7 linked regions of the Homo sapiens genome follow. The protein of the gene in region 1 purifies or fractionates together with the protein of each later gene. This does not show direct contact. Each region holds a gene or a part of one and is shown in the gene's direction. Other genes may lie near its edges.

What was found.
Region 2: the proteins of ZBTB1 (region 1) and STK38 purify together in Homo sapiens (affinity purification with mass spectrometry, with the first as the bait; one study listed by BioGRID). This does not show direct contact.
Region 3: the proteins of ZBTB1 (region 1) and SPRR2E purify together in Homo sapiens (affinity purification with mass spectrometry, with the first as the bait; one study listed by BioGRID). This does not show direct contact.
Region 4: the proteins of ZBTB1 (region 1) and CHAF1B purify together in Homo sapiens (co-immunoprecipitation; one large-scale study listed by IntAct). This does not show direct contact.
Region 5: the proteins of ZBTB1 (region 1) and TESK2 purify together in Homo sapiens (affinity purification with mass spectrometry, with the first as the bait; one study listed by BioGRID). This does not show direct contact.
Region 6: the proteins of ZBTB1 (region 1) and CCDC42 purify together in Homo sapiens (affinity purification with mass spectrometry, with the first as the bait; one study listed by BioGRID). This does not show direct contact.
Region 7: the proteins of ZBTB1 (region 1) and HNRNPR purify together in Homo sapiens (affinity purification with mass spectrometry, with the first as the bait; one study listed by BioGRID). This does not show direct contact.

What each region holds. Positions count from the first base shown.
Region 1 is NC_000014.9:64,507,343-64,511,713, forward strand, and holds part of ZBTB1 (zinc finger and BTB domain-containing protein 1), read left to right. Parts: intron 1-3,906; exon of another isoform or gene 3,907-4,042; intron 4,043-4,310; exon of another isoform or gene 4,311-4,371.
Region 2 is NC_000006.12:36,540,295-36,544,665, reverse strand, and holds part of STK38 (serine/threonine-protein kinase 38), read left to right. Parts: exon of another isoform or gene 1-2,897; intron 2,898-3,876; exon of another isoform or gene 3,877-4,065; intron 4,066-4,371. UniProt on the Homo sapiens protein: Serine/threonine-protein kinase that acts as a negative regulator of MAP3K1/2 signaling. Converts MAP3K2 from its phosphorylated form to its non-phosphorylated form and inhibits autophosphorylation of MAP3K2.
Region 3 is NC_000001.11:153,092,124-153,096,329, reverse strand, and holds SPRR2E (small proline-rich protein 2E), read left to right. Parts: upstream 1-1,803; 5' UTR 1,804-1,846; intron 1,847-2,559; 5' UTR 2,560-2,578; coding exon 2,579-2,797; 3' UTR 2,798-3,195; downstream 3,196-4,206. UniProt on the Homo sapiens protein: Cross-linked envelope protein of keratinocytes. It is a keratinocyte protein that first appears in the cell cytosol, but ultimately becomes cross-linked to membrane proteins by transglutaminase.
Region 4 is NC_000021.9:36,401,747-36,406,117, forward strand, and holds part of CHAF1B (chromatin assembly factor 1 subunit B), read left to right. Parts: intron 1-1,011; coding exon 1,012-1,105; intron 1,106-4,371. UniProt on the Homo sapiens protein: Acts as a component of the histone chaperone complex chromatin assembly factor 1 (CAF-1), which assembles histone octamers onto DNA during replication and repair.
Region 5 is NC_000001.11:45,484,351-45,488,721, reverse strand, and holds part of TESK2 (dual specificity testis-specific protein kinase 2), read left to right. Parts: intron 1-4,371. UniProt on the Homo sapiens protein: Dual specificity protein kinase activity catalyzing autophosphorylation and phosphorylation of exogenous substrates on both serine/threonine and tyrosine residues. Phosphorylates cofilin at 'Ser-3'. May play an important role in spermatogenesis.
Region 6 is NC_000017.11:8,734,230-8,738,600, reverse strand, and holds part of CCDC42 (coiled-coil domain-containing protein 42), read left to right. Parts: intron 1-2,989; coding exon 2,990-3,211; intron 3,212-3,346; coding exon 3,347-3,505; intron 3,506-4,371. UniProt on the Homo sapiens protein: Essential for male fertility. Required for sperm development.
Region 7 is NC_000001.11:23,306,097-23,310,467, reverse strand, and holds part of HNRNPR (heterogeneous nuclear ribonucleoprotein R), read left to right. Parts: coding exon 1-14; 3' UTR 15-4,371. UniProt on the Homo sapiens protein: Component of ribonucleosomes, which are complexes of at least 20 other different heterogeneous nuclear ribonucleoproteins (hnRNP). hnRNP play an important role in processing of precursor mRNA in the nucleus.

The sequences.
Region 1 (4,371 bases):
GTTACTCGTGTCTATTTTTTCTCAAAATGGAAATGTTTTTTATTATAAAATCCATGCTCTTTGAAAAATTCAGCCTGTATTGAAGTACATAAAATACAAAAATGAAAGTCATTTTGACTCCCACTCCCCAGAGATAATCACCATGTACAGTTAATTCCTTGTTTAAAACGAGAGAAGGCAACATTTGATCACAGCTGTGTGTGCCTCACTCTGCCTGGGGATGGCCTGTGGTGATTCATGGACTCATGTTCTCTGTTCACATTACTCAGGTTGGTAAGAATTGCCAGGTAGAGGAAAGGGGAGTGTTTTGCATTGGGCTGATTTAAAATTATTTGATTAACTGGGCTGCTATTTTAGGTTTGTCCTTATTAAATACTTACTGTATCATGGTGGGCTATTTTTCATACTTTGTTCATGTTAATGTTGTTGCCCAGCCTCTGATGGATTGATTTACAGCAGCCAAACACATGAAAACAAAAGCAAACCCTCACCTTTATAGAGAGTTTCATAATTTATAATTAGGAAGGAGTGGGTATACTTGCCATGAAGACCACTGCCAATATATCCCTGTGCTGATATGGGATGGGGTTCCTCTTGATCAGCACCAAAGATTGCATGCTGAACATATGGAAAGGAAATTGGACGAAAGAAGGGTCAATGACCGCTGTTTTCAGATGTGGCATGGAAGAGACTGATACTGGGGAGGAAGCGGCAGGGTCTCACTCCTTAGCCATGTGTATTTAAGAAGAATGAACTGTGAAGAAGTTGATGATGATCTAAAAACAGAGCCCCAAAATAGTACATAGAAAGTTAATTACAACATTGGTTATTTGAGAGTGTTGGGGACGTGGGTGGTTTTTATACTACTCTGTCTTTGAATTTAAAATAGTTTTCAAAATAAAATTTGAAGATTAAAGAATTAACCAGATTTTCTTTTGTCTATATGAGATGCATGCAGTCGTTTTTAGAGATGAGTTCCATCCCCACTTTGAATCTGAAGTATTAGAAGAGGCATGCTCTGGTGGACAGTGGGGAGTTAGCAGATGGAAGGGGATTTAGGGAAGGGACTGGACATTCTTCCTGCAAGATGGAGCAGTAAGAGAATGATGAGAGCTTTTAGATTCATGAAAAAGGTGACTCTAGGAGGCTTAGAATGTTCCAAAGGGGCACTTCAGCTAATAGTCATATTCAGAAGAGTGTTGTCTGGTTTACACAAACTGAAACTTAGGGCTTTGAATCAAGAGTCTCAGCTTCTACTTACAAGATAAGCAGTTTTGGGGAAGTCAGCCACTGAACCTGTTTCTTCATTTGCAAAATGAGGATAATAAAAATACCTATCTCAGGGTGGTTGTGAGATCAGTTGTATAATGTATGGGAAAATGCTTTAAATTTTAATTTTAATTTTAATTTCCAACCACTATATAAAAGTTGCCATGATTGAAATAAACAAAAAATTGATAAGCAAAATAAAACTTACCTGTTTAAACATTTATTCATTCAAAAACTCATCAAGTATCAACTAAATGTCAGACATTCAGTAATGACTGAGATACTGCCCTGATGTCAAGGAGCTTGCAGTAAAGCAGGGGAGCCAAATAATTGCAATATCTGCCTTAAGTGTGGTAACAGAGCATCACAGTTGGGATGATGCATTATTGGTACCATATTGTTGTATGTATAGGCTGTTTTGGCAGCACAGAAGAGGCATCTGCCTCACCCTAAGATCAGAAAAAACTTCCCAAAGAGGCCAGGCACAATGTCTCTCACCTGTAATCCCAGCACCTTGGGAGGCCTAGGCAGGCGGATTGTTTGATCTCAGGAGTTTGAGACCAGCCTGGCCAACATGGCGAAACCCTGTCTCTACAAACAATACAAAAGTTAGCTGGGCGTGGTGCCGCATGCCTGTAGTCCCAGCTATTCGAGAGACTGAGGTGGGAGGAACGCTTGAGCCTGGAAGGGCGGAGGTTGCAGTGAGCCGAAATTGCCCCATTGCACTCCAGCCTGGATGACAGAGCCAGACCCTGTCTCAAAAAAAAGAAAAGAAAAAAGAAGTCCCAAACAGAGTGAGCTAGACATTGAAAAGGTTCTAAGCAAAGGAACAGCATGTGTGAAATGGCAAGGCTTTTGGTGTGTTAGGTTATTTGGGATCGGGGGAATCTTAAAGCTTAAAAATGGAGTTAAGTTTCTTAGAATGAACATGCATTTTATGATTTTTTAAAATTGGTTTCATTTTGTTGAATTTCAATTATATGATTGTGATGTTTTCAGGATTTTGGTTTGAATTAAACAAAACTGGAGCCACAAAATTGGAAACAATACAATTTTTTTTAAAATGTGTAGGATCTGGCCGGGTGTGTGGTGGCTCACGCTTGTAATCCCAGCACTTTGGGAGGCCAAGGCAGGCGGATCACGAGGTCAGGAGATTGAGACCATCCTGGCTAACATGGTGAAACCCCGTCTCTACTAAAAATACAAAAAAAAAAAATTGGCCGGGCGTGGTGGTGGGCGCCTGTAGTCCCAGCTACTCTGGAGGCTGAGGCAGGAGAATGGCGTGAACCTGGGAGGCGGAGCTTGCAGTGAGCCGAGATTGTGCCACTGCACTCCAGCCTGGGTGACAGAGCGAGACTCCGTCTCAATTAAAAAAAAAAAAAAAAGTGTAGGATCTGCTCAAAGAAGGAAACTGGGTAATCCCTCCCATCATCATAGAGCTGTCTCACCAGTTATTCATTCAGTAACACTTACTGAATACTTAATATTCCAGAGAAATGAAAAAGCCAAAGTCCTCGCCTTAAAGTTGCTCACAATCTCATGGGGGAGACCAACACATAATTATAACCAATTCTTATTTAGCACTTACTCCATGAGAGATATACTTAACAATAATTCTTCAGAGGTAGAAAGGATTACCATCCCTTCTTAGAGAATTGAAGCACAAATTGACTAAGCAACCTTCTCAAGGTCACACACTTAATAAGTGGCAGAGCCAGAATTTAAACCCAGGCAGTCTGGTTAGTTTGTGCTTTAACACCTACTTTATGTAGCTGTTCTGATTATTAAAATACAGTGTAAAAAGTGCAAAATAAAGAGGTAATACACAATGAGATCAAAACCTAAAATAGTGGGAGAGGAAGGTGTTACAGAGGCTTTCTGCAGGAGGTGATAAACTGATTTTTAAATGATATCTGGGAGGTTCAGACCCAAAGAACCAATCGGCATGAGTAAAACTGCAGGGGAAGTAAGAAATTTATGAAGTATACTGGATGTGTGTGGAGGAGGGTGAAGGTGGTGATGAGCAGTTTTATGTTGCTTGAACATGAAGTTTGAAGCAGGCAGTAACTAAACATGTAAGACTAGATGGGTGGGCATGGAGGGCTTTGTATGCCTCAATAATGATTTTATACTTTAGTCTGAAGATATGTGAGGGGAACCATGGTAGAATAGTGTGATATGATTTTTCTTCTTCATGAATCATCTTCAAAACAGCATTGCTCTGGGAAGAAAAAGATTACCTGAGAGTGAAGGATTTGAGAGACTGGTTGAGCCTATTTTAATAACTCAGGAGTGATAACAGAGGCCTTGCAAGAGCAGGAAAGGTAGGGATGGAGTAGATGGGCAGATTTGAGAAATATTTAATGGGAAAATTGGCAACACTTAATGGTTGATTATGAGGGAGAAGTTATAGGTAGCTCCCAAGTAGTCTAGGTGATTGGTACATAGTGGTGGCAGCTGAGACAAAATACAGGGAGGGGCATTTTTAAGTGGGTTCCAGACAAAATCTGAGTCCACAGAATTAGTACTTTGAAATAGAAGTCCTACAAAACGAACCCTAAGAATATGAATGCCATGTGCAATAAGGGATTTCCTGGTGAAGCGTTTTTAGCTGAGAAAAGCCTACTGTTTACACAGTGCCCTCTGGTGGTCAGAAGATGCTGTGCTGTCTCGTTAGGATGAATGGATTAAAATGTACTTTTCCTCCTCTGCTTCTGGAGAGGGAGAGAGGAATATTCCAGAAGCCACTGTGTTCCTTCTGCTTTCTGTGTGGGTAAGTTCATTTCTTAGAATATAATGCAACTGAACTACAGGAACATCTCACTTATTTGTAAGTTATTTGGTTGGCAACCTCAGCTATCCAGTGCCTTGGCCTGATGCAAAAGAGGAAGGAAATATGATCGCCTGTCAGCAAAATTCAGGAATTAAAACTTTACATCTTATGAGCATTTCCCTAGATCTTCAGAAGATGTTGTGCTCCCTCTTTAGGATGAATGGATATGTAGATTCAATTTTCAATGAGTTTTTGTCTAATTTCACAGCCAAGAAGAGATTGAAATGGTGGGCCACAGGAGATCAGCACACCTTTCAGAAGTGACAGTT
Region 2 (4,371 bases), on another chromosome or scaffold:
AGCAATCTCCTACCTCTCCCTCCCAAAGTGCTGAGATTACAGGGGTGCACCAGTGCCCTGGCAAATTGTTACATTTTTATGTTGAAGTAATTTCAGTTGTTAAAATGTAACTACATATATGCAATTTCTTCAGGAATTTTCAGACAAGGAAGTACAAAACTCTCACTTGCTTTTGACATGTTTTTACATCTGGTTTTTAAATTTCTTCACCAAACACACTTAGAGTGCATGTGGTTTTCATTGTGGGTGGAGGGGGGGGTACAGGCTGACAAATAAGGAACCACACCCAAGCTTCACAAACCAAACAGAGGTTTTTTTTTTGTTGTTTTTGTTTTTTTTAATTCCTTTAGTGATACTCTAAAACATTTGAGTTTGCTTTGGTATTAGTCGAAACTTCCCCATAAAAAATAATGTGATATTTTATAGTAAGGTAGCTCTTAATGCAGTGTCTTAAATTTGTTTTTACTGATCTTTTTGGCACATGATGAATCAAAATGTTTGACTCTCAAGTAGAGTCTTAGTTTTGAATCTCTGCTCTGAAGGAATTATTTATGTGATTTTTGTCTGCGTATCTTTTTAAATAATTGCTTTTTAAATAATTTTAAGGCTTTTTTGAACAAGTGTTTTATAAGCCTTAGTTTAATCCACAAAACAATTTAAAAAGCTACTAAATATTAAGGGGGAAAACCTGAAAACTTTTCTTAAAATGCACTATCTTTGAAAATGGTCCTTGGCTGGGTGCGGTGGCTTATGCCTCTAATCCCAGCACTTTGGGAGGCCCAGGCAGTCAGATCATCTGAGGTCAGGAGTTCAAGACTAGCCTGGCCAACATAGTGAAACCCCGTCTCTACTAAAAACTAGCTGGGGGTGATGGCATGTCCCTGTAGTCCCAACTACTTGGGAGGCTGAGGCAGGAGAATCGCTTGAACCCAGGAGGCGGAGGTTGCAGTGCACCGAGATTGTGCCATTGCACTCCAGCCTGGGCGACAGAGTGAGACTCCATTTCCAAAAAAAGAAAAATGGCCCTTTGACTCTCATGATTCTTTTTTGCTGCAGCTGTGGGGGGTAGTAGAGACAGGGTCTTGCTATGTTACCCAGGCTGGTCTTGAATTCCTGGACTCATGAACTCCTGGGCTCAAATGATCTCTCTACCTCACCCTCCCAAAGTGATGGGATTACAGGCATGAACCACAGTGTTCAGCCTCTCCTAATTTTTACTCAGCTTTATATTGGGATGAAGAGACAGAGAAGTAGATCATATGAGAGGTAGGAATGGTAAGAATAAAATATTGAGCACTATTGGCCGGGCATGGTGGCTCACGCCTGTAATCCCAGCACTTTGGGAGGCTGAGATGGGCAGATCATGAGGTCAGGAGATCGAGACCATCCTGGCTAACACGGTGAAACCCTGTCTCTACTAAAAAATAGAAAAAATTAGCCGGGCGTGGTGGCGGGTGCCTGTAGTCCCAGCTACTCGGGAGGCTGAGGCAGGAGAATGGCACGAACCTGGGAGGCGGAGCTTGGAGTGAGCCGAGATCGCGCCACTGCACTCCAGCCTGGGCGACAGAGCGAGACTTCGTCTCAAAAAAAAAAAAATTGAGCGCTATTGCCAATGCTGGAGCAAGTCAATGTTAGTGAACAATTTGGCCAAGTGTGATAATACAGGTTAGCTGAAATATCTGGAGGAAAACAAGATTTTATTTTATTTATTTATTTTTTTTGAGACGGAATCTTGCTCTGTCACCCAGGTGGAGTGCAGTGGCATGATCTCGGCTCACTGCAACCTCTGCCTCCCGGGTTCAAGCGATTCTCCTGTCTCAGCCTCCCGAGTAGCTGGGATTATAGGCGCCTGCCACCACGCACAGCTAATTTTTGTGTTTTTAGTAGAGACGGGGTTTCACTCTGTTGGTCAGGCTAGTCTCCCAACTCCTGACCTCAGATGATTCGCCTGCCTTGGCCTCCCAAAGTGCTGGGATTACAGGCGTGAGCCACCGCGCTCAGCCGATTTTATTATTTATTTTTGAGACTGAGTCTCGCTGTGTAGCCCAGTCTGGAGTGCAGTGGCGCTATCTCGGCTCACTGCAACCTCTGCTTCCCAATTCAAGCAATTCTGCCTCAGCCTTTGGAGTAGCTAGGACTACTGGTGTGTGCCACACTCCTGGTTGAAAACAATATTTTAAATTTAGGAAAAAAATATTCTATAACTTATCTAAACACATTGGTGGTGTTTTTTTCTTGTGTAAAATGAGGAAATTAAGATCTCTTGTTTTTAAGGTATTGCTGCTTCTACCACTAGAATCGTGATTCAGGTTTTTTGTCATATTGTTCCCTTTATTTTAAGACTTAAAACTTTATTTTAACTTGTAAATTCAAATAAACGGCAAACATTTATCAAATACCTTAAGGCTGTGTCAGAGCATATATGTATCAGATTACCATTTTTAATCATAGATTTTTCTTTTAACTGTGGATAAACTTAAAAAGTTATTGGTAACAGTATATGCTTATGGAAGAAAATATAGAAAAACATGGGCTGGGTGCAGTGGCTCATGCCTGCAATCCCAGCACTTTGGGAGGCCAAGTTGGGTGGATCACTTGAGGTCAAGAGTTTGAGACCAGCCTGACCAGTGTGGTGAAACCCCGTCTCTACTGAAAATACAAAAAAAAAAATTAGCTGGGCACAGTGGCTGGTGCCTGTCATCTTAACTACTTGGGAGGCTGAGACACGAGAATCGCTTGAACCTGGGAGGCAGAGGTTCCAGTGAGCTGAGATTGAATCATTGTACTCCAGCATGGGCGACAGAGTGAGACTCCATCTCAAAAAAAAAAAAAAAGAAAAAGAAAAACATGGAAAAAGCACAAGCAAGAATAACATTTTCTATTCCCACTACCTACAGGTAAGCCACTAATAACATTTTGATGATATGTTTCTAATAATTATGTGCATATACAGTAAACACATAAAGAAAATTGAGATCGTGATATACATTCTGCTTTGTAATGTGTTCTGTTGACTTAGAGTGGAAACATTTCCTCTGACATTAACTATTTGGACATATTTTAATTGTCTGCACATTATTTTATTGAAGGGCTTTTTCATACTGAATTAATTCTATTGTGTATATTCAAGTTATCCCTAATTTCCCTTTGTGATTACAATGCTGCATTGCACCTCCTTGTGATGAATTTTTATGGGTCTTTGATTTCTTCAAGGTAGATTTTTAGATGGCAAAGAATTGTACTGTATGCATACTGTATATTTTTTTTTAGGTCTCACTATGTTGTCCAGGCTAGTCTTAAACTTGGGGACTCAAGCAGACCTCTGTCTTGGCCTCCCAGGAAGCCAGGATTACAGGCGTGTGGTTTACTATATATTCTTAATTTATCTATATGGTATTGTGATCTTGTTCTCTTTTTAAAAATGCAATATGCACTTGCACTAATATGTTTTAAAGATATATTTGTGGGCTGGGCACGGTGGCTCACGCCTGTTATCCTCAGCACTTTGGGAGGCTGAGATGGGCGGATCATGAGGTCAGGAGTTTTGAGACCATCCTGGTTAACATGGTGAAATCCCGTCTCTACTAAAAATACAAAAAATTAGCCCGGTGTATTGGTGGGCGCCTGTAGTCCCAGCTGCTTGGGAGGCTGAGGCAGGAGAATGGCGTGAACCTGGGAGGTGTAGGTTGCAATGAGCGGAGATCGCGCCACTGCACTCCAGCCTGGGCGACAGAGCGAGACTCCTTCTCAAAAACAAACAAATAAATAAATAAATAAAGATATATTTGTGTGGGCCAGGCGCGGTGGCTCACAGTTGTAATCCCAGCACTTTGGGAGGCCGAGGTGGCCCCGTCTCTACTAAAAATACAAAATTAGCCAGGTGTGGTGGCGCATGCCTGTAATCCCAGCTACTCGGGAAACTGAGGTGGGAGAATCGATTGAACCTGGAAGGTGGAGGTTGCGGTGAGCCAAGATCATCCTGTCGCACTCCAGCCTGGGCAACAAGAGCGAAACTCCATCTCAAAAAGAAAAAAAAAGATATATTTGTGTGACTTACAGGTACAGGTAAAGTTGCTTCTGGTTTTCTGGTTGTTGCATGGTATTTCCTATGCAGCCACAGCTCTTTATTTTCTTACTTAAGTGCCTCCAACTTCCCATAACACAAATTAAGGCATGATGAACATCCTCTCTGTGCTGAACATCCTGTGTATGTCACTTTAGAAGCCTGTGTGACGGTTTCTTTAGTCTTTATACCTAGGGGTGGGATTTCTGGGTCATAGGACAGTAATTTATATTTATTTTCACTAAGTATTCTCTTTCTCTGGCTTTTGTTACATATTACCTGTTTGTCCTCCAGAAAACTTGCACCAA
Region 3 (4,206 bases), on another chromosome or scaffold:
TCAGACATTTCTCTAAGGATCTGTGTTGTAGATGTGATGTGAGACTCTGGGGAGGAGTAGGTGACCTATTGAGTGAAGTCTGTTTACTTTACCCACTGTGCTTGGCATGTGTAATAGTCTATAGGAAGCATTTGGTGAGAACACTATTTGTAAACACCTGGCGCAAAGGTGCTGACATGATAGTTGTATTTCTGCAGCATCTGGCCACAGTGATCTTGGCCAAAAGCTCTTCCTTAAAGACTGGAGCAATTGCAGATCTGGAAACCTAACCTGCTTAACTGAGAGATGTGATGCTGGGTTGATTCAGTGTTCTTGCTCTATCTGGAGCATAGCTGGTGAGTGCTCCAAAGAATTTGAGTCACTCCTCTTCCTCTTTTTCCTTATCTTCCTCTTCCTTCTTCTTCTCCAATTATAAAATCACATTCTTGGAAAGCTTCCTGATCATTAGCCCAGATAAGAAAGCTCCAGCAGCACTGTTTTAAATGTTTAATATACAATGTTTAGTAAGCCCCATTGATTGCAGGAAGAGTTTTAAAAAGATGTGAAAGACATTCACATTGACAACATACGTATCGAGTGAACAATGTGTACTAAAATGAACAGATGAGAGGTATACATTGGGGTGTGAGTTGATAATCTAGCAGGTTGTGGGGCTAGAGAGCTTTTGGAAAAGACAATGGAAGAACATACAAACAAATTAAAAAATACCATTTTTCAAAGACTAAAACCTGTTTGGAAAGAGAGGTAGAGAAAGCAAACACATAGGATCACACTGAGTTTATATTTTCCCCTAGATTTCAGACTTTAAGTGCTCTGACCTCTATTCTGGAAAACTTCTAATTATTTACATAAGATACTGTGAGTCTATGCATCTTGTTCTCTATATGATGTTCACAGGGAAACATACAGGCATGGTTCAATACATAGATTTAAAATGAATGCTTGTAACTTTGGTTCCCTTTTCTCCATTTTCTTAATGTGGTGAATAAGAGTACAGTTTTACAAATGAAAAGCCTGTAGTACACTCCCTTGATGGTAGCAGTGGCAAATGTACTGGAGAGACTGGATCTCACTCTGGTATCTATCTTGGGACACAAGTGCCTCTTTGAGGGTTGTAGAAGACAACCCTCAAAGAGGAAAGGAATATAGGTAAAATCTGGGTTTCTGCAAGAGAAAGAGGTGGAGCAGAAAATTTCAGGCTTGAACAGGATCAACAGATGGCACAATGTGGTCAGTGCCTCCAAACCCAGAGGTAAATAAGATGCTCTTCTGTTTACAGTTCCAGGGAGGAGAGTTGACCTGGCTGTGGTCATACAGCTTAGCAAAAAAATCTGGGGCCAGAACTCAGGCCTTTGTTAGGTCTCTCCTTCCTTCTAGCACATTGGCAAATTGTACAAGGAAAGTAGAGGTGGAGATGGGTTCATGTACAAACAATATGGCATTCAGCTAAAGTGGATCAGGGCAGGAAGTTTTATGATTTAGGGAATGTGTAAGACAGGAAGCATTCATTGCCCCCAATCAAGAAAGAGAGCCCTTGACCACCAGTTAGAGAATCCCCCAAGTCCCTCTTTGCTGTCACTGAAACTGAGATCTAAGGCAGGGCCTCAGTGAGTCAGGGCACTTAATCCAGTGGAAAGATCCCAGAACAGGATATTTCCCAGTTTGAGAATCCCTGTCATGCCAGTTATGGATAGATTTGCATTTTAGTTGGGACATTGCTGGGCCAGCCCAGTTTTGGGTAGTTCCACTTCCTGCTGGGTGGGGTAGCAGGCCCTATAAAGAGGTTCTCTGCTCTACAACTCCTAAACTCCTGGTACTTGAGCACTGATCTGCTTTGGAGAACCTGGTGAGTCTGCTTCCTTGAGTTCCTCTGTTCTTTGTGCCCTGAAGTGTTGAATTTAACCTGAATCCAGCAAGTTTGGTGGATCCAAACCTGTGATCATAGGTTTGATGGTACTTAGTTGATGGAACTACAGGATTAGATTACATGATACAGTGTTTTACACAGATTTTTAAAAAATGTACAATTATATGTCCATATGGACAGAGAAGTTAATAGGAAAGTTTTGGTTTGAAGAAAGGGATGAAGTATTTTTCTCTTTTCCATATTTTCCTGGTATCCTTTTCAAAGGTTTGTGTCTTAGCAGGTGTGAGAGCCAGTACTTCTTCCTGAACAGCCCTTGCTCTGTGCCCAAGTCAACCCACTGGTGCTTTACAACAGATAATGATGATAGGAATAGCTTGTGAGATTGCCCAGGAGGTCTGAACTTGTGACTGCCTTTCCTGAAGATGTCATTTTCATGGAATAACATGCTTGCTTCTTTATTATAGAGATGTTTTCTTTGGAAAAATTGTATGAGGAAAGGCAGGAATTCCTAGGGCTGATGAAACAACTTGCTAAAGTGGAAAGGAGAAGACAGGAAGTCATGAAAAGAGAGCTAAGAGTTTAAATAAATTTTTGGAGATTGGAGAAATAATATGCCATGGTATTACATAAGCTTTGGCTTCTCTCTCTGGAGGAGTCCATTCCTGTGAACACTGTCATATCATTTCTTTCAGATTCTGAGACTCCAGCAGGATGTCTTATCAACAGCAGCAGTGCAAGCAGCCCTGCCAGCCACCTCCTGTGTGCCCCACGCCAAAGTGCCCAGAGCCATGTCCACCCCCGAAGTGCCCTGAGCCCTGCCCACCACCAAAGTGTCCACAGCCCTGCCCACCTCAGCAGTGCCAGCAAAAATGTCCTCCTGTGACACCTTCCCCACCCTGCCAGCCAAAGTGTCCACCCAAGAGCAAGTAACAGCTTCAGAATTCATCAGGAGCATGAAAGGATAAGGATAATTGGCTCACCTTGTTCCACAGCTTCACCTGCATCTTCTCATCAAAGCCTACCATGGATACACAGTTAGCTTCTTTCCTCTTAGCCAGTGATCTGCCCATGATGATCCCTGATAGCAAAAGGTTTCCTTTCTGAGGCTGCCATATTGCCACTGTCCAGGTGGAGACTGAGAAAGGAAGTCCTCAGCAGTGTCAGTTCCCAGAGCTTTGGAAGAAGGACCAGCAGCTCTGTCCCTGGGAACCATCAAAAAATGCTGTTGATGTTTTCTGTGTCTGTCTGTCACCTGGGCATGGGCTTCTAACACCTGTGCAATTGTCACTTTTCTTTCACTCCCTGAATAAAATATCTTTGCATACGTATTTGTGAATGGATCTTTTGTTTCTTTTCAAATCTGCTTTATTAGTAAAATTATATAATCATTTGGGTTTATTTCCACCTTTCTTTCAACCACAGTCAGAATCTTAAAATTTGGGTCATATCAAAGATTATGTCTGTATTATTTAAACCACTTTTATTTTCCTTAATTAGTGTTTGATTGATTTGAGGAACATATTATTCAACTTCTGTGAATGTCAATCTCTTTATTGCAAAGCGACCAAAATAACATTTACTTAACAAACTAGTCTTGGGATAAATCTAATTACTATCTGAAATTTTGTTGTCGCAATGCCTGACACATAATTAGCTGTCATTTTAGAAGTTTATTGGCAGTAACATATCATCATTGTTTCCACCATTACCACCACCACCACCATCATCATCATCATCATCATCACTCCCCATGACAACCACTACCATATTTGTTCCAGCAATAGAGTGGCTTGGATGTAACTAATATAAAAAATAAGAAGACTCTGTTTTTTTTTAAATTTTATTATTATTATACTTTAAGTTTTAGGGTACGTGTGCACAATATGCAGGGTTGTTACATATGTATACATGTGCCATATTGGTATGCTGCACCCATTAACTCGTCATTTAGCATTAGGTATAACTCCTAATGCTATCGAAGACTCTGTTTTTATTGGTTCCTAATACTTATACACATTTTTGGGATACGTGTGATATATTGTTACATGGATCAAATGTGTAATGATAAAGCCGGGATATTAGGAAATTTAGGGCATTCATCACCTTGAGCATTTATCATTTCTGTCTTTGTTGGAAACATTTTAATTCCTCTCTTCTAGCTATTTTGAAAAATACAATATGTTGTTGTAAACTGTAGTCACCCTACTCTGCTATCAAATATTAAAACTTACTCCTTTTATATATCTCTATGTTTGTACTCATTAGCCAGTGTTTTATCATTCTCCATCCCCTGAACTCCCTTCCCTGCTTCTGGTATCTATCATTCTACTCTCTACATT
Region 4 (4,371 bases), on another chromosome or scaffold:
TGTTTGTTTGTTGAGACAGTGTCTGGCTCTGTCACCCAGGCTGGAGTGCAGTGGCACGATCTTGGCTCACTGCAACCTTTGCTTCCTGGGTTCAAGCGGTTCTCCTGCCTCAGCCTCCCGAGAAGCTGGGATTACAGGCGTGTGCCACCACACTTAGATAATTTTTGTATTTTTAGTAGAGATGGGGTTTTGCTATGTTGGCCAGGCTGGTCTCGTACTCCTGGACTCAAGTGATCCGCCCGCCTTGGCCTCCCAAAGTGCTGGGATTACAGGTGTGAGCCACCATGTCTGGCAAATGCTTGATGTTTATAAATAGTAGTAAAAACTGTCCCAGACAGGTGTTAAAGAAATGTTGTTTTAAAAGATTAATGATTACCAGTTTAATAATCCACTATTTTCTTTTTTTAAAGGGTGCATTTGTTAATAGCTGGATGTGGTGGCATGTGCCTGTAGTCCCAGGAGGCTGAGACGGGAGGATTGCTTTGAGCCCAGAAGTTCTAGGTTACAGCGACCTATGATTGCGCCACTGCACTCTAGCCTGGGTGACAGAGCGAGACTCTGTATCTAAAGAGTGCATTCAGTTGGAAATTCTAATGAATCCACACAGATAGAAAGCAGAGGTCTCCTGGTCATCTTCCCACTGTCTGCCAGTCTCAGGCCCCAGACATGCCACTATTGACCCTGTGGTTTGTGTTCTTAAGAGTTTTTAAAAATAATTTTAGAACCACATAAAACACACATATATACATATAGCTTTACCTAACAAAAATGTGTGGTCAGTTTTCATGAATGTTTACCCTTGCAGTGTTGTACAATTATTTGATTTGTAATGTGTTTCAGTTTCATTTATGATTATGTCAACAATAAATGACACTATGTAAAGAAAACCATAGGCACATATAGCAGTTGGGAAGCGTTTATTTGTGAGTGTAAAGATTTGGAAAAATGTTTAAGCTTTGTGTGTAGAAAACAAACAAAAAAAATAATAAAAATAAATTTTGTGTGCGACAGGCAAGAAGCTACCGGATGTTTCACGACGACAGCATGAAGTCTTTCTTCCGTAGACTGAGTTTCACTCCCGACGGATCTTTGCTTCTCACGCCAGGTGTGTTTCGTAGCTTTGGACTTAAAGGAATGATGGCCGAGTGGGGATGTCTGCTCCCGTTTTACGCTGCAGCTTATCAGCTCAGTGAATGCTGATTAGAGTGGGGGTCCCCGACTTACCTGCCCATTGGAACCTCCAGGAGAGCTTCAAAAAACACATTGGTGCCTATGTCCCATCCCTAGAGATTGTAGTGTATGTAATTGGTCTGGGTGGCCTGGCTTTTGGAATTTTAAGAAGATTTCCAAGTGATTGTAATGTGCAGAAAAGTTTGGGAGTAATGAGTTTAAAATGATAGGCATTTTCTCTTAGATAAATTTAACTTTTGGCTGGGCACAGTGGATCACACCTGTAATCCCAGCACTTTGGGAGGCTGAGGCGGGCGGATCACTTGAGGTCAAGAGTTCATGACCAGCCTGGCCAACATGGTGAAACACCCTCTCTATTAAAAATACAAAAATTAATGATGTGGTGGCGCATACCCTGTAATCCCAGCCACTTGGGAGACTGCGGCAGGAGAATCGCTTGAACCCAGGAGGCAGAGGGTGCAGTGAGCCGAGATCACACCACTGTACTCCAGCCTGGGCGACAGAGTGATATCTTATCTAAAAAAAAAAAAAAAAAAAAAAAAAGAAACTTTACTATTTAAACCCTTTCAATGAATGCTTTTTCATTCATTAACATGTGTATGGAAGCCATAGCGCTAAAGCCAAAGATAAAGCTCCTTTATTGTTTTTATTCTCCTCAATAAAGCGCATTTGTGACAGGATTAGACTCATGGACAAACTTGTGGAAGCAGCAGTGGTCAAAATCAAAAGGTCAGCCAAGTAGCAAGGACTAGATAGGTTTATTGTCCCTATGTCCCTAGGAAGGCAAGGGGCTCAGCCCAGCAAGATAAGGCTAGGCATTATTGTGGCCACAGTGTTCTCAGAGGAGAATGTCTGCTCATTGCCGTGGCTCCAGGACCATCCTGTGCATAGAGATGACAACATAGCCCAGGGTTGGGCCAAACGGGAGGGCACTGTCTTGGTTTGCCACTGAGTCCCATCCCAGCTGAGCCAGGGAGGGCCTGAGAAGGGCGTGAATCACACATGCAGCTGTGTGGGTGGGGCTTTAAAGAACACTGCGGAACATGTGCGAATGACACTTTGGCCCAAGAAGTCTCAGGACTAAGAATAAGTAGTTGTTTAGGTTATATTTACTAAAGTTAGTTATTAAAAGTTATTCACTAAACCCAGTAATAAATCCTTTTTTTTTTTTTTTTTTTTGAGACTGAGTTTTGCCCTGTTGCCCAGCTGGAGTGCAGTGGCACGATCTTGGCTCACCACTGCAGCCTCCGCCTCCCAGTTTCAAGCGATTCTCCTGCCTCAGCCTCCTGAGTAGCTGGGATTACAGGTGTGCGCCACCACTCCCAGCTAATTTTTGTATTTTTAGTAGAGACGGGGTTTCACCATGTTGGTCAGGCTGGTCTCAAACTCCTGACCTTGTGATCCGCCTGCCTTGGCCTCCGAAAGTGCTGGGATTACAGGCTTGAGCCACCACGCCCGGCCCTTTTTTTTTTTTTAAATTATTTATTTTATTTATTTATTAATTTATTTATTTTGAGATGGAGTTTCGCTCTTGTTACCCAGGCTGGAGTGCAATGGCACGATCTCGGCTCACAGCAACCTCCGCCTCCCGGGTTCAAGCCATTCTCCTGCCTCAGCCTCCGGAGTAGCTGGGATTACAGGCATGCGCCACCACGCCCAGCTAATTTTGTATTTTTAGTAGAGACGGGGTTTCTCCATGTTGGTCAGTCTGGTCTCGAACTCCGGACCTCAGGTGATCTGCCCACCTTGGCCTCCCAAAGTGCTGGGATTATAGGTGTGAGCCATTGCGCTGGCCTTTTTTTTTTTTTTTTTTTTTTTTTTTAAAAAGCAGAGTCTCGCTCTGTCACCCAGGCTGGAGTGCAGTGGCACCATCTTGGCTCACTGTAGCCTCCACCTCCTGGGTTCAAGCGATTCTCCTGCCTCAGCCTCCTGAGTAGCTGAGATTACAGGCGCCTGCCACCACAACCAGATAATTTTTGTATTTTTAGTAGAGATGGGGTTTCGCCATGTTGGCCAGGCTGGTCCCAAACTCCTGACCTCAGGTGATCTGCCCACCTTGGCCTCCCAAAGTGTTGGGATTACAGGTTACAGGTGTGAGCCACTGCGCCCAGCCCCAGTAGCAAATCCTTTACTATTTGGCCACTCTAAAAATATTTTCAATTAAAATCAAGTAGCAAATGGATGTCTGTTATCAACGTTATTGTTCTTTGTGGTGTTAGTAAGTGTGGGAAAAACAGGAAAATGAAATTACAAAGATTGGAAAAGAACAGATAAAAAACTGCAATAGGATTGTATTTCTAGAAAATCCAAGAGATTTTAAAAATAGTATTAGAATTTTTAAAATAATTTGATAAGATGGCTGGATATTATAAAATATATAAAAATTCCTATCTTTCGTCTATATTGGCAGTGAGTACTTAGAAATGGAAGGAGGAGAAATATTTCATTCAGAGTAGTGCAAAACCTGCAAAATACATAGAGTAAATTTATTTATTTATTTATTTTTTGAGACAGGGTCTCACTCTGTCACCCAGGCTGGAGTACAGTGGTGTGATCATGGCCCACTGCATCAGCCTTGATCTCCTGAGTTCAGGGAATCCTCCCACCTCAGCCTCCCTACTAGCTGGGACCACAGGCGTGTAGCACCATGCCTGGCTAATTTTCTTATTTTTTTGTAGAGACATGGTCTTGCTATGTTGCCCAGGCTGGTCTTAAACTCCTGGGCTCAAGCACCCCTTCCGCCTCGGCCTCCCAAAGAGCTGGGATTACAGGTGTGAGCCACCACACCCAGGCAGAAGTAAATTTAATGAGAAAGGGGCAGGACCTTTATGGAGAAGTCTAGAAGGTCTTACTGAAGGTTATAAAGCAAGTTCTGAACAAATGGAAAGATATGTCGTGTTCTAACAATTAACATACTAATTTCATTTCCAATTAGAATTGCATTAAAGTTTTTTTTTAATTGGATGAAATCTCAGCTTTGTTTAGTAGAATAAATGCTGAAGAATAGCCAAAGAAGTATTAAAAAAAAAACAGTGATACTTGGGAGGGCATTTGCCTCACCACATATCAGAAGATCCTATAACACTACTTTTAGCCAATCAATATGGTGTTGCTATAGGACCAAACAAATAGATTAGTGGACCAGAACACAGAATCCAGAAAAAGATCTCAGGATATAAG
Region 5 (4,371 bases), on another chromosome or scaffold:
GAGCTGGTTCTAGTGAAACTCATCTTTATTGAGAATATACTATATGCCAGGTACATAAAGATGCTTTATAGATCACAACAGCCTTGTGGTTAACATGTCAGTATCCCTCTTTTACAGTGGAGAGTACTGTGGACAAGGATTTGAGCAGGTATGTCTAGTTCTGAAACCTGTGTTCTTTCCATTATGGCACATGTGTGTTTTTCTTTTCAGTACAGGTGAAACAGTTCTGTAAGTGAGGGGAAGGTTCATCTAGGAAATATGTCAGTCAGGCATTTTGCCCTTTGACACCAAAAGGATAGTAGTGAAAATGGATAATGATGTGGTAGAAGGGAAGGAAAGTGAGGGAGTTTAACAGATGGCCTTATCGATGTGATTACTTATCTGTGGAGAAGTCAGTTTGGAGACTGAAGACACTATGGTGAGTTTCTGACTTGAGTATTATGGCCATGGGAATCTTAAATGGAAAATGAAAGAGAATAAAGATTTAACAAAAAAAATTGTTGGCCAGGTGTAGTGGCTCACTTTGGATTTTTTAATCCCAGCACTTTGGGAGGCTGAAGTGGGAGGATCGCTTGAGCCCAGGAGTTTGCGACCAGCATGGGCAACATTGTGAGACCTCGTCTCTACAGAAAATTAAAAAATTAGCTGGGTGTGGTGGTGCATGCCTGTTGTCCCAGCTACTGGAGAGGCTGAGGTGGGAGGATTGCTTGAACCGGGAGGCTGAGGTTGCAGGGAGTCAAGATTGTACCACTGCACTCCAGCCTGGGGGAAAGAAAAAAAAAAAAGCAAAAAAAAACTCAGGAGCTAAAAGATTGTTGACCACATTGAGGGTCCTACTAGTTAGAAATAATATATTTGTAATGGGGCCCAGGAGCATGGATTTTACACTTTCTTCAACAGCCTAAGAATAGTAGGACAAAAAAGATGGTTGGATTGATTCAAAATGGAAACTTGCAGGACAGAAAGATAAAATGGGAAGCAACTTTACACTGCTATTGATAGTGTAGGAGATATGTTTCATTCCAAGGGACCAAGCTGGGAGTTATAAGAAGCAAAATCTAGAGGGAGGCTGGTGTACTTAGAGAATAAAAAGACAATCAGAAATGTGGTTGAAGACCAGATTTTGTAAGAAATATATAATTGGACAGCCCAGAGTTCATTATTTCAAGGTAAAGACAAAAACTGGCTTAACTGTCTCAATGCTGTTGAAGGGGAATGGAGGTGTAGGTTATTGAAGTAGTGGGAGATTAGGGGGCTGTGTTGAATATGTCATCAATATGAATGTCACAGTTGTCCAGCATGATAGCAGGAGATTGAGCAGAGGAGATAGTAAGTCCTATAGGTGGGCCTGCTCACCAAGGAGGGACCCAGAGTTGGATTGGTGGTTCCTTGGCACTTGTTGAAAAGTAGTACCAAATGGTACAGATGTTTGTATATGAATTAATGGTGATATCCTCAGATACTTGATGCCCTGGATGTATGATGTGTTATTCTCTCTTACAGATATATGTTTGGGATAGACCCTCAAACACAAAAAATCCTTTGTAAGCTTGACATATGATGGGCTTTGATTCTGTTTAAAATATATGTGCTGGCTGGGTGCGGTTGCTCACACCTGTAATCCCAGCACTTTGGGAGGCCAAGGCGGGTGGATCACTTGAGGTCAGGAGTTCGAGACTAGCCTGACCAACATGGAGAAACCCTGTCTCTACTGAAAAAAAAAATACAAAAATTAGCTGGGCGTGGTGGTGCATGCATGTAATCCCAGCTACTTGGGAGGCTGAGGCAGGAGAATCGCTTGAACCCGGGTGGTGGAGGTTGCGGTTAGCCGAGATCGGGCCACTGCACTCCAGCCTGGGCAACAAGAGCGAAAGTCCGTCTCAAAAAAAAAAAATGTATATATGTGTGTGTGTGTGTGTGTGTGTGTGTGTGTGTGTGTATGCTGGGAGGCTAGGGACTCTCCACCTCAGGATCCTCAGTAACATTTTTTTATGGTTTTAGTTAATTGTGTGTGTGTGCGTTTGTTTTTTTTTTTAATTAATTTTTTTTTATGGGGTCTTGCTCTGTCACCCAGGCTGGAGTGCAGTGGCAAGATCTCGGCTCACTGCAAGCTCCGCTTCCCAGGTTCACACCATTCTCCTGCCCCTCAGCCTCCTGAGTAGCTGGGATTACAGGCGAGGGCCACCATGCAGGGCTAATTTTTGTATTTTTAGTAGAGATGGGGTTTCACCATGTTGGCCAGGCTGGTCTCAAAAGGTTTTAGTTAATTGTAAAAAGAAAATTACACATTTAAATATGCTCATCCCGGACTTATTTTGAGGAGAAAACTGACTTGCTTTTATGCTTTCTTCCCTGTATGAAAGTATTTATACATATATTCTTAGTGTCATACATTTCATTTTGTTTTGCAAAAAGAATGTAGTGTTGGAATTTGAAACCTATGGTAAAGGCATTTATGGGAATTTCATCTCCTTCTAGTAGATGAAGCCCAATTATTACATTGTATTGTGTGGGTGATGGTGAATGTTTTGACCCAACAATGGCTATTATACTATTTACAAAGTCATCATATGGAGATGACTTCAGTGTAGTCTCACTAGTGTTATTTTCCCTGAACAATCACAGGCAGTGGCTGTTTCAGAGAAAAGCCTGGTTGTAATAAGTTTTATGTCTTCCATTCCTGAAAATTTCCAAAAGGCAGTGTGATAAAAGGAAAAGAACATTAGGAAAACCTTAGTTGTATTCAACTCTGTTGTTATTAACTATATGATGGTTAATATAAAGGCAAATTACTTATCTTTTGTGAGCTTTAGTTTTTTTTTTTAAGATACATTTAATCTTTGAATAGATAATACATTCAACTGGTTATTAAATGTAAACTTTTTTAATATATAAATTTAGGGCTGGGTGCGGTGGCTCATGCCTGTAATCCCAGCACTTTGGGAGGCTGAGGCAGGTGGATCACTTGAGGTCAGGAGTTCGAGACCAGCCTGGCCAAGATGGTGAAACCCCCTTCTCTACTAAAAATATGAAACATTAGCTGGGTGAGGTGGCCTGCGCCTGCTATCTCAGCTACTTGGGAGGCTGAGGCAGGAGAATCACTTCTACCCAGGAAGTGGAGGTTGCAGTGAGCCGAGATCATGCCACTGTACTGCAGTTTAGGCGACAGAGTGAGACTCCGTCTCAAAAAAAAAAAAATAAAATAAAAAATAAATTTATATAACAGTGAAAAGTCGGCTGGGCGCGGTGGCTCATGCCTGTAATCCCAGCACTTTGGGAGGCCGAGGCGGGCGGATCACGAGGTCCGGAGATCTAGACCATCCTGACTAACACGGTGAAACCCCGTCTCTACTAAAAATACAAAAAATTAGCAGGGCGTGGTGGCACATGTATGTCGTCCCAGCTACTCAGGAGGCGGAGGCAGGAGAAGGGCGTGAACCCGGGAGGTGGAGCTTCAGTGAGCCGAGATCGCGCCACTGCACTCCAGCGTGGGCGACAGAGCGAGACTCCATCTCAAAAAAAAACAAAAAACAAAAAACAAAACAGTGAAAAATCTTACTTCCATCTCTGTTCTTTATTAACCTGGTTCCATGCCCTCTCCCAAACACTTTGAATAGTCTCTTTATATTCTTTTAGACTTTATTTTTTATTTTTAATTTAATTTGATTTAATTAATTAATTTATTTATTTTGAGACGGAGTCTCGCTCTGTTGCCCAGGCTGGAGTGCAGTGGCGCGATCTCGGCTCACTGCAAGCTCCGCCTCCCGGGTTCACGCCATTCTCCTGCCTCGGCCTCCCGAGTAGCTGGGACTACAGGCGCCCGCCACCAGGCCCGGCTAATTTTTTGTATTTTTAGTAGAGACAGGGTTTCACTATGTTAGCCAGGATGGTCTCGATCTCCTGACCTTGTGATCTACCCGCCTCGGCCTCCCAAAGTGCTGGGATTACAGACTTGGGCCACCGCGCCCGGCCCTTTATTTTTTATTTTTGAGACAAGAGTCTCACTCTGTCGCCCAGGCTGGTGTGCAGTGGCGCAGTCTCGGCTTTCTGCAACTTCCGCCTTCCGGGTTGAAGCGATTCTCCAGCCTCAGCCTCCTGAGTAGCTGAGTAGCCGTGCACCACCACGCCCGGCTAATTTTTTAATTTTTAGTAGACACGTGGTTTCACCGTGTTGGCCAGGCTAGACTTGAACTCCTGACCTCAAGTGATCTGCCCGCCTCAGCCTCCCAAAGTGCTGGGATTACAGGCATGAGCCACCGCGTTCGGCCTCTTTTAGACTTTCTTTAGGCGAATGCTTACAAATAAGAATATATGGCTGGGCGTGGTGGCTCACGCCTGTAACTCCAGCACTTTGGGCGGCAGAGGCCGGTG
Region 6 (4,371 bases), on another chromosome or scaffold:
TCAGCTACTCCGGAGGCTGAGGCAGGAGAATTGCTTGAACCCGGGAGGCAGAGGTTGCAGTGAGCCAAGATCATGCCATTGCACTCCAGCCTGGGTGACAGAGCTAGACTCCGTCTCAAAAAAAAAAAAAAAAAAATCTCAAATCATGCTTATTATTTTGTCACATTTAATGTTTTGTAACTTTTTATACGGAATTTTTTAAGCATACACAAAAGTAAAGACAATAGTCTATTGAACACCTGTTGCTCATTACCTGATTCTAATAATGATTAATTCATAGTCACATCCCCCACACTTTCCCACCTCTGCCATTTTGAAGCAAACAATATATTTTCATCCATTTGCGTCTCTCTGCAGTATGTATCTCTAAGAGATGAGAGCTCTTTTTAAAATAACTACACCATTGTCACACCTACTATACAATTGATAGTAATTCCTTAACATCAAATATCAGTATCATTTATTGCACAAAATGGGTCAAGCGTGGTGGCTCATGCCTGTAATCTCAGTGCTTTGGGAGGCTGAGGTGGGAGGATCACTTGAGCCCAGGAGTTCAAGACCAGCCTGGGCAACAAAGTGAGACCCCCCCCAAATCTGCAAAAAATTAAAAAATAAAAATCAGTCAGGAATGGTGGCACACACATGTGGTCCCATCTACTTGGGAGGCTGAGGCAGGAGGACTGCGTGAGCCCAGGAGGTCAGGGCTGCAGTGAGCTGTGTTTATGCCACTGTAGTCCAGCCTGAACAATAGAGTGAGACCCTGTCTTTTAAGACAAATTATTGCACGGATGCTTTTTGTACAGTTGGTTTGTTCCAATGAGAGTCCATATAAGGTCCTCACACTGCCCTTAGTTGGTATGCTTCTTAAGCCAGACACAAAAGAGGTTATATCGTATGATTCCATTGATGTGTTTAAAAACAGGTAAAATTAATCTTTATTGATAGAAGTCAGAATATTGGTTTCCTCACTGGTCGGGGGAAGACACTCACTAGCAACCCTTCCTCATTTATTTGCTAGAATACTACCATAAAGAAAAGGACTTCATAAAGAGATCCTTTCCTTCATCCACCATTTGATTACTATGTGGGTCTCGCAGAGAAAGTTTGTTAAATGCTTTATTTAGTTTTCAGAATAATGAATTTGTTCTCTAGCACTGACCTGTAATGTTTCTAGTATCATTGTGAACTGATGGATTTTTAACATATTTGATATGTTTTAATCCTTTGCACTTATTCTTACTAATGTTCAAATCATCTCATCTTTGGGCAGTGGGTGGCTCTTCGATTTGGCACCTAAATCCTTTTGACATCAGCATTAAGTTTAGAGGTGTGTTCCTAGTAGCTCTGATGTGGTCCATTTATTTGAACTGTGGTACACTGTTGCACTGTGTGCCAGATGAACTTTCAGAAATGCACACGTGAATTGTCTGTTTCTTAAAATCCTTCAATGGATAAAGTCCACACTCCTTCCCAAGGTTTACTGAGCTCGCTTGCTTGCTTGCTTTTCTTTTTTTCTTTTTCTTTCTTTCCTTTTTCTTTTCTTTTTTCTTTCCCTTCCTTCCTCCCTCCCTCTTCTTTTCTTTTTTTCTTTTCCTTCCTTTCTCCCTCCCTCCCTCTCTCTCTTTCTTCTTCTTCTTCTTCCTTCCTCCTTCCCTCTTTCTTTCTTCTTCTGCTTTCTTCTTCCTTTCTTCTTCTTCTCAGTCTCTCCCTCCCCATCTTGAACTCAGGCTACCTTCAGCATCCTGAACATACAACCCCCTATTCCATTCATCTTTGCCCAGGCTGTCTCCTTCACCTGTAGCACTGCCTCACCTCCCTACACCTGCTTTTGCTAGCTATCTTCTATTTATATACCTCTCATCTCATTTCAGCCACACTTTCTCCCATGAAACCTTTTCTGGCTGTTCCTACCTCTTTCCGTGCTGGGTTGGGTGGCCCTTCCCCAAAGAGGCATATTTGGGGAAAGGCCAGCAGGGCAGTTCCCAGGACACGCATCCATCACTGGAGATGTCACGAGATGGAGAAGGTGCTCGGGAAGTTTCCCCTGGGCGGCTGAAAGGCATGCTTTGATAAGCCCCTAGGAAGGCAACTTGGTATCACAGAACTGGTGTTCATGCTGCCTTCTAAAGAGCGTGGGTTTCATGGCTTCTGTTCCACTGAGTGGGACCTGAGGGTTAGGGCCAGAGTGGCATGGTTCTGGACCAGGCTGGGGGAGGTGAGCTGAGTCTGGCAGGCCACCTGCCCCACCAGCACCCTCTCTATCCCTGCTTCTCCCTCAGTAAATGAACAAATACCAGAGATCACCAACGTGAAGGCTTTCCCAGAGTCCCCTCCAGCCCTATCCCCCAGTCATAGATAGGGCTTATCTTGCTGTTGTAACTGACTGTTTACTTGTCTGTCTGTCCTCCCTCCATGCCACCCCCCAAGCTGTAAGCTTCCTAAGAGCAGAATCTGGTTTTCCTAACTCCTGCTATTTCCCTAGCATTTAGCATAGCTCCTGGCTTGTAAGTGGTTCCTGGTACAATCTTGTTGAATAGGAAATTCTTGCCTTGGAAGACATTGCAAAATGCCTTCCATCAGCGATTATCAACCCTGGCTGTGCCTAGAGCCACCAGGGGACCTTTTGCAAAATTCAGATGCCAGAGACCACAGAAGACTTGTTTATTCATCTGAATCTCTGGGGGTGGAGACTGGCAGGTGTCCTTTTTAAAGCCCCTACAGGTGATTCTCACATGCAGTTAAAGTCGAAAATCCCTAGCCCAGTTGTGCATCCCCCTGCCCAACAAATGGACCGTGGCCCGTACAAACCCAGGAGAAGCAGGCAGCGGAACCCCAGTGTCCCTCACAGCCTCTGGCCGTGACCCTGGCCAAGGGCCTGCCTGCCCAGGTGTCCAGGTGTCCAGGCATCCAGGCTGGAGGTTGGCAGGACTGGGTGGCTCCCTCAGGCCCCAGGGGCTGGCTGTGCATTGACCTGAGCCCCTGACCACAGTTCGAGGAGATCCATGAGGTGATTGCACGCTACAAGACGCTGGTGAGCATGCGCCACGACCTCATGCAGTCTGCGCAGGAAGGCCAGGAGAAGATTGAGCGCGCCAAGGCCCGGCTGGCGCGCTACATGGAGGAAAAGGATGATGAGATCCTGCAGCAAAACAATGAGCTGGCAAGGCTGCAGATGCGCTTTGACCGTGCCCGCAGCAATGTCATCTTCTGGGTGAGGGGCCCGGGGCGGGCCGGGGGCTCCCAGGCACTGGGTGAGTGCGGGCCCTGAGCATACACACACACACATACACACAAACACACACACACCACATGCTGTGCTCATGCCCCGTCCTTATCCACTCTCCAGGAATCTCGCTGGGCGCACATCCAGAACACCGCAGCCAAGAAGACCCTCCTGCTTGGCACCATTAAGATGGCCACGCTGAACCTCTTCCAGATCGTGAGCAAGCACCTGAAGGAGGTGACTGAGGTGGCACTGGAGGACACCCACAAGCAGCTGGACATGGTAGGAGGAGGGGACAGGCACTGGGCCCGTGGGGTCGGCTGGGCCGAGGAGGTTGCCAGTTGGTTGGGTGGAAGAATGAACCTGACAGAGAAGCAGAGCAGGGACTCTCAAAATTTAACAACATCAGGATCACCTGGGAGGGTGAGGAGTATTACTGGGCCCCACCCGCAGAGTCTCTGACTCAGTGGATCTGAGATGAGAACTCATGAATTTACATTTTCAGCAAGTTCCCAAGTGACGCTGCTGGTTCGGGTTCCATACTTTGAGAACCATTGCATTAGCACCGAAACCCTTTTAGCCCCAGTCTACAGAGCAGTAGCAGGGACCCACTACTGAATCCATTAGTTGTGCAAAACAGCCTCATTAAATTCTAGTGAGATACTGTGGCTTGCTGAAGGCTTGAGCTTGAGGCCCACACTTCGTTAAAAAGAGAAATTGGGGCCAGGCACGGTGGCTCATGCCTGTAATCCCAGCACTTTGGGAGGCCTAGGTGGGTGGATCACCTGAGGTTGGGAGTTCCAGGCCAGCCTCAAAAAAACAAACAAACAAAAAACAAAACAGCAATTGACTTAGAGGCACTTTCCCTACTTTTCCAAAAAAAAAAAAAAAGTGAAATTCATGAAATATACACAGCTAGGAAAAAGGAGTTCCCTAAAACAAATAATTAGCCTACATTTTAAAGCCTGTTTGAACAGAATTATTTTATAGCCCAAAGGAGGGCGTTTGTAAGCAAGTGTGTTCTGGAAGTAGCAATTCTCAACATTTCACCTTTACACTCCTAGAGTTTATTGAGGATTCCCAGAGAGCTTTTCTTTATATGGTTGTATCTATAATTGCCACAATAGAAATTAAAACAGAAAATTTTA
Region 7 (4,371 bases), on another chromosome or scaffold:
AACAGTGGAAGTAGACAAGTAAGGGCTTGAAAATGATACTGGCAAGATACGATTGGCTCTAGATCTACATTCTTCAAAAAAAAAAATTGGCTTAACTGTTTCATCTTTAAGTAGCATTTTGCTGCCATTTGTATTGGGCTGAAGAAATCACTATTGTGTATATACTCAAGTCTTTTTATTTTTCCTCTTTTCATAAATGCTCTTGGACATTATTGGGCTTGCAGAGTTCCCTTATTCTGGGGATTACAATGCTTTTATCGTTTCAGGCTTCATTTTAGCTTCAAAACAAGCTGGGCACACTGTTAAATCATGATTTTGCAGAACCTTTGGTTTTGGACAGTTTCATTTTTTTGGATTTGGGATAGATTACATAGGAGTATGGAGTATGCTGTAAATAAAAATACAAGCTAGTGCTTTGTCTTAGTAGTTTTAAGAAATTAAAGCAAACAAATTTAAGTTTTCTTGTATTGAAAATAACCTATGATTGTATGTTTTGCATTCCTAGAAGTAGGTTAACTGTGTTTTTAAATTGTTATAACTTCACACCTTTTTGAAATCTGCCCTACAAAATTTGTTTGGCTTAAACGTCAAAAGCCGTGACAATTTGTTCTTTGATGTGATTGTATTTCCAATTTCTTGTTCATGTAAGATTTCAATAAAACTAAAAAATCTATTCAAAACATTACCTATTTCAAATTCAATTGTGTCCTAAAACATTATTTTATTCGTAATCCTTGCAAGGAATATTGTTTTCAAAGTATAACTGCCTATGTGAGTGATCAAATTCATGCAAAATTTCTTGTTTATTCCAACATGTGTTGTGGATATTAGACTGAGGATTAGTCTAAATTCAAGTATTTATTCCAATTAGCACTTTCATTGATTGGTGTTCTCTCATAGTCTCTTCTAATTTTGAAATTTTATCTTTTATTAAAAAAAAAAAAACAGGTTCATAGACTTTTGAGCATTCTTGCAGGCATTGGATAATTTGCATTAAAACAAATAAAATGTGGCTGGGAAAGCAGACTGCAATTTATTTTGACCCACATTCTTTATAAGGGATAATTTGTGACTGAAGACCTTATTTGCTGGATAAGTGAATGTACATACAGGGAAAATTGTTAGTACTGTGGCGTCAATTGCACTGCGGACTTTAGTTTTAGTGAAAATGATCGTGACTACCATTTCAGTTACTGGTTTAGGAATATAATTTCCTATTACTATGTAAATTTGCTTTGAGAAACATTCATGCCTTGTAAGAGAGGCTTAAAAATATCCAGTAGTAATACCTTTGACTTTCTGTTAACACTTCGTTTATTTTTATTTATCTGCTATCCCTGATGCCCAAATTTTTTGTTGGCCAAGACATAACATCTATTTCCCTATTTCCTTTAGAAATTCTGATTTATTCTAATGACTTTTTTGCTTGAGAATGAGAGGAACAAAAGAATCTAAGCTTTACGGTACAGAAAAGTGAATCACTTTCAAATTACTATTAAGTTTTCCCCTCCATCTTATTCTTACGTGGTTCTCAAATGTTTTTATAATGATAAAAATATCAGAAGCCATTGGGGAATAATTAAAATGGATACACCATTATTCTGTGTTTTGTTCCTGTTTGGTGTCTTTGTGATAGGAATATTAGATTTCAAAATCATAAGCCACTTAATTCCGTGTAATCTTGGCTAGATCATATTGGGTTTCATGGCTTCTTTTCATTTCAATTTAAGATTACTATTTACTGATGAAAGTCAATATATTTCATTTCTTTTTCAAAGTACACTCATTACACAGTATAGTCATTTAACAGACCTTATTGATATTTTAGTTTTTTGGAAACTGATAAAGGAATTATGGTCTGTTGTATGATAGTTTTGAGTTAACATGGGTATTTCTTTGGTAAGACAGATCCAGTTGTTTTTCTTATGCCCATGTATGCAAGTAAAGACACCAAACATTCTTTAAATGCTGCTTTTAAACTTTGAAAGTACAATTTGAAGTTGTAACTATACATCTAATTAGACTTAAGTAAAACCCTGATTTTTTTCCTGGAAAGAACAAAATCTACAAATAAAATTTGAGTTGTTTGTATTTCTTAATTAGGTGTTACAAGCTACAAAGTTGTCATAAAGAATGCTAAGAATGGGGATAGAAATGATTCTGAGAAAACAAACCCTCGCAAAAACATAAGATTAAAACTTGGGTTCCATGTCAAAATCCTTTCCTTTAATTGCAAATTATATTTTGAATTTTAAAGTGGCCACCTCCTCCTCTGTCCTTTTCACTAATTAAAAATATATTTGCAGAGGTACCCTCTAATATTTGGTTTATAGGTTTTGTGGCTATTTTAAATTGTAAAGCATAATCCTATAAACATTAAAACTCAAGAGCTTTTCTTCTTTCATGTCTTGTAAATTAACACTGTAGCAGCATTCAGAGAAAATAGATTCAGAGCTCAACTTTTCACATAAATAAATCTAACAGTGTAATATATAAACCTGAAAAATGTCAGTTGAGGGAGGTCTTTATTCTAGATTGGCATTTTTTTTTTTTTAAATTAGGTACAAATTATGAGTGTAAGGAATTTGGTTTCCTGCTCTCCTGTCTTTCCATCTTTTTTGTTCCCCAAGCTAATTGATTTGGCTTTATTTATGAGCCTGTTACAGTAAAGTGTGTGTTGGGAAATATATTGAGGTATAGAGCTATTCTTTGTAGGTACCCTGGTGAGACCGATACAAATATGCCCCTCCCCATAATGGAATACTAATTTTTATTTGATCACTCATTTATAGCAGTTGCTTAAATGTATGTATTTATATGAAGGTATTTTAATTTTTAAGAGCAAAAAAGTTCTAATAAGTTGCCAGATTTCTAATAAATGCAGGTTTATTTGGTGAAAAGATAAGGAAAATGAGTTATGATTCTGTAGTTTTTTTAAAATGAGTTCAGCATAATTGTTTTTCAGGTTTTTTTAGTTACTGGGGTTATTCTGCATAAGAAAGCCCAATGCTTTCTGATAGTAGGAGATAATTTTTCTCTCTTTTGACTTTGAAATCTGACTTAGGAGATGAATTCTTTTTAAAAAGGTCAGCATGCAAAAAAATAAATTATATATTTTAAATTCTAAAAGAGAAGGGACATAAAATTTCACTCCTAGCATAAAGCCATATAATATTATTCTTGAAACTCATTACATCATTTGCCTCCTGCCCATTTGAATATAATCATACCTACGTTTTATTAATTGTGCATTTGTAAAACCAAACCCTTCCAGTAAATACTTGCTATAAGGCTATTGCTTGTCAATTATCAAGGCTTCTAAATATGTTAAAACTTGTCATTTTGATTTTTCAAAGATAATTTTATTATACTGAGCTACCAATATTCTTAAAGAAAACTAACCAAAGTTAATATTAGTGTAGTCCATTATTATGTGGACAATTATTATGTGGAATCTCTTAAGTGAGCAACTAAGAAAAAGCCTTATAGAAAGACTACACTGGATTTATAAGTGTGTTTATGTTTCTCTAAGAATGGGAGCTTCTGTTAACTTAGGGGTGGAGTTGTTCTGAGGAAACCAGTAGATTGGATGACTGACTGGAGAATCCAGAATAACAAATCCATTAGCCAGACATGTTTACTTTTATATTAGAAGTTTGTTGATTAGGTCTTAATTTTCAAACGCAAACACCAAGCTTTAAAAATATTGCATATACAATGTATTGGTCAGCAATTTAATAATATTTAATTTGAAGTTAATTATTGTTAATCCTTCTAGAAAAGTTTTTTTTCTTTAAATAAAAGTACATATATATACTTTTTTATTTAGAGGTTACCAGAAGCTCTGGTTTTGTTTTGTTTTGTTTTGTTTTTTTGTTTTTTTAATCATTTTCAGATGTTATCCAGAAATCTGCAAGTGTACTTTTCCTGTTTTAACTCCTTCCTTTTATCACCTGACTATCAGGGAAGCGAGGTTGAGGCTGCCCTGACCTGACATGTCATGATGTCGACTTGCTAGGTGGGGTTCGCTGGGGACGATAACCAGTGGAATTGTTGGTAAGAACTTTTTTTTCCTATTTTTTTTTTTATCAGTAGTGGGGCATTAAGTGTGGGAGAATGCCCATATCCTATAAGTGGGCAATTATGTCAGCCTTGTAGAAAAATAGGACTTTAATATTAAATTATTTTGTTCTTAATAGGAACATATAATAACACTTCACTTACTTTTAAATTGGTAGCAGATCAGCAGGAAAGGCCTGCAAGTATGAAGTAATGAAATACTCAGGGTATATTTTAAGTGAGCAAAATAGACACCTTATAATCTTAAAAAGTCTCTTGGAGAGACAATAAATTTGCTTTAACTGTCATTTC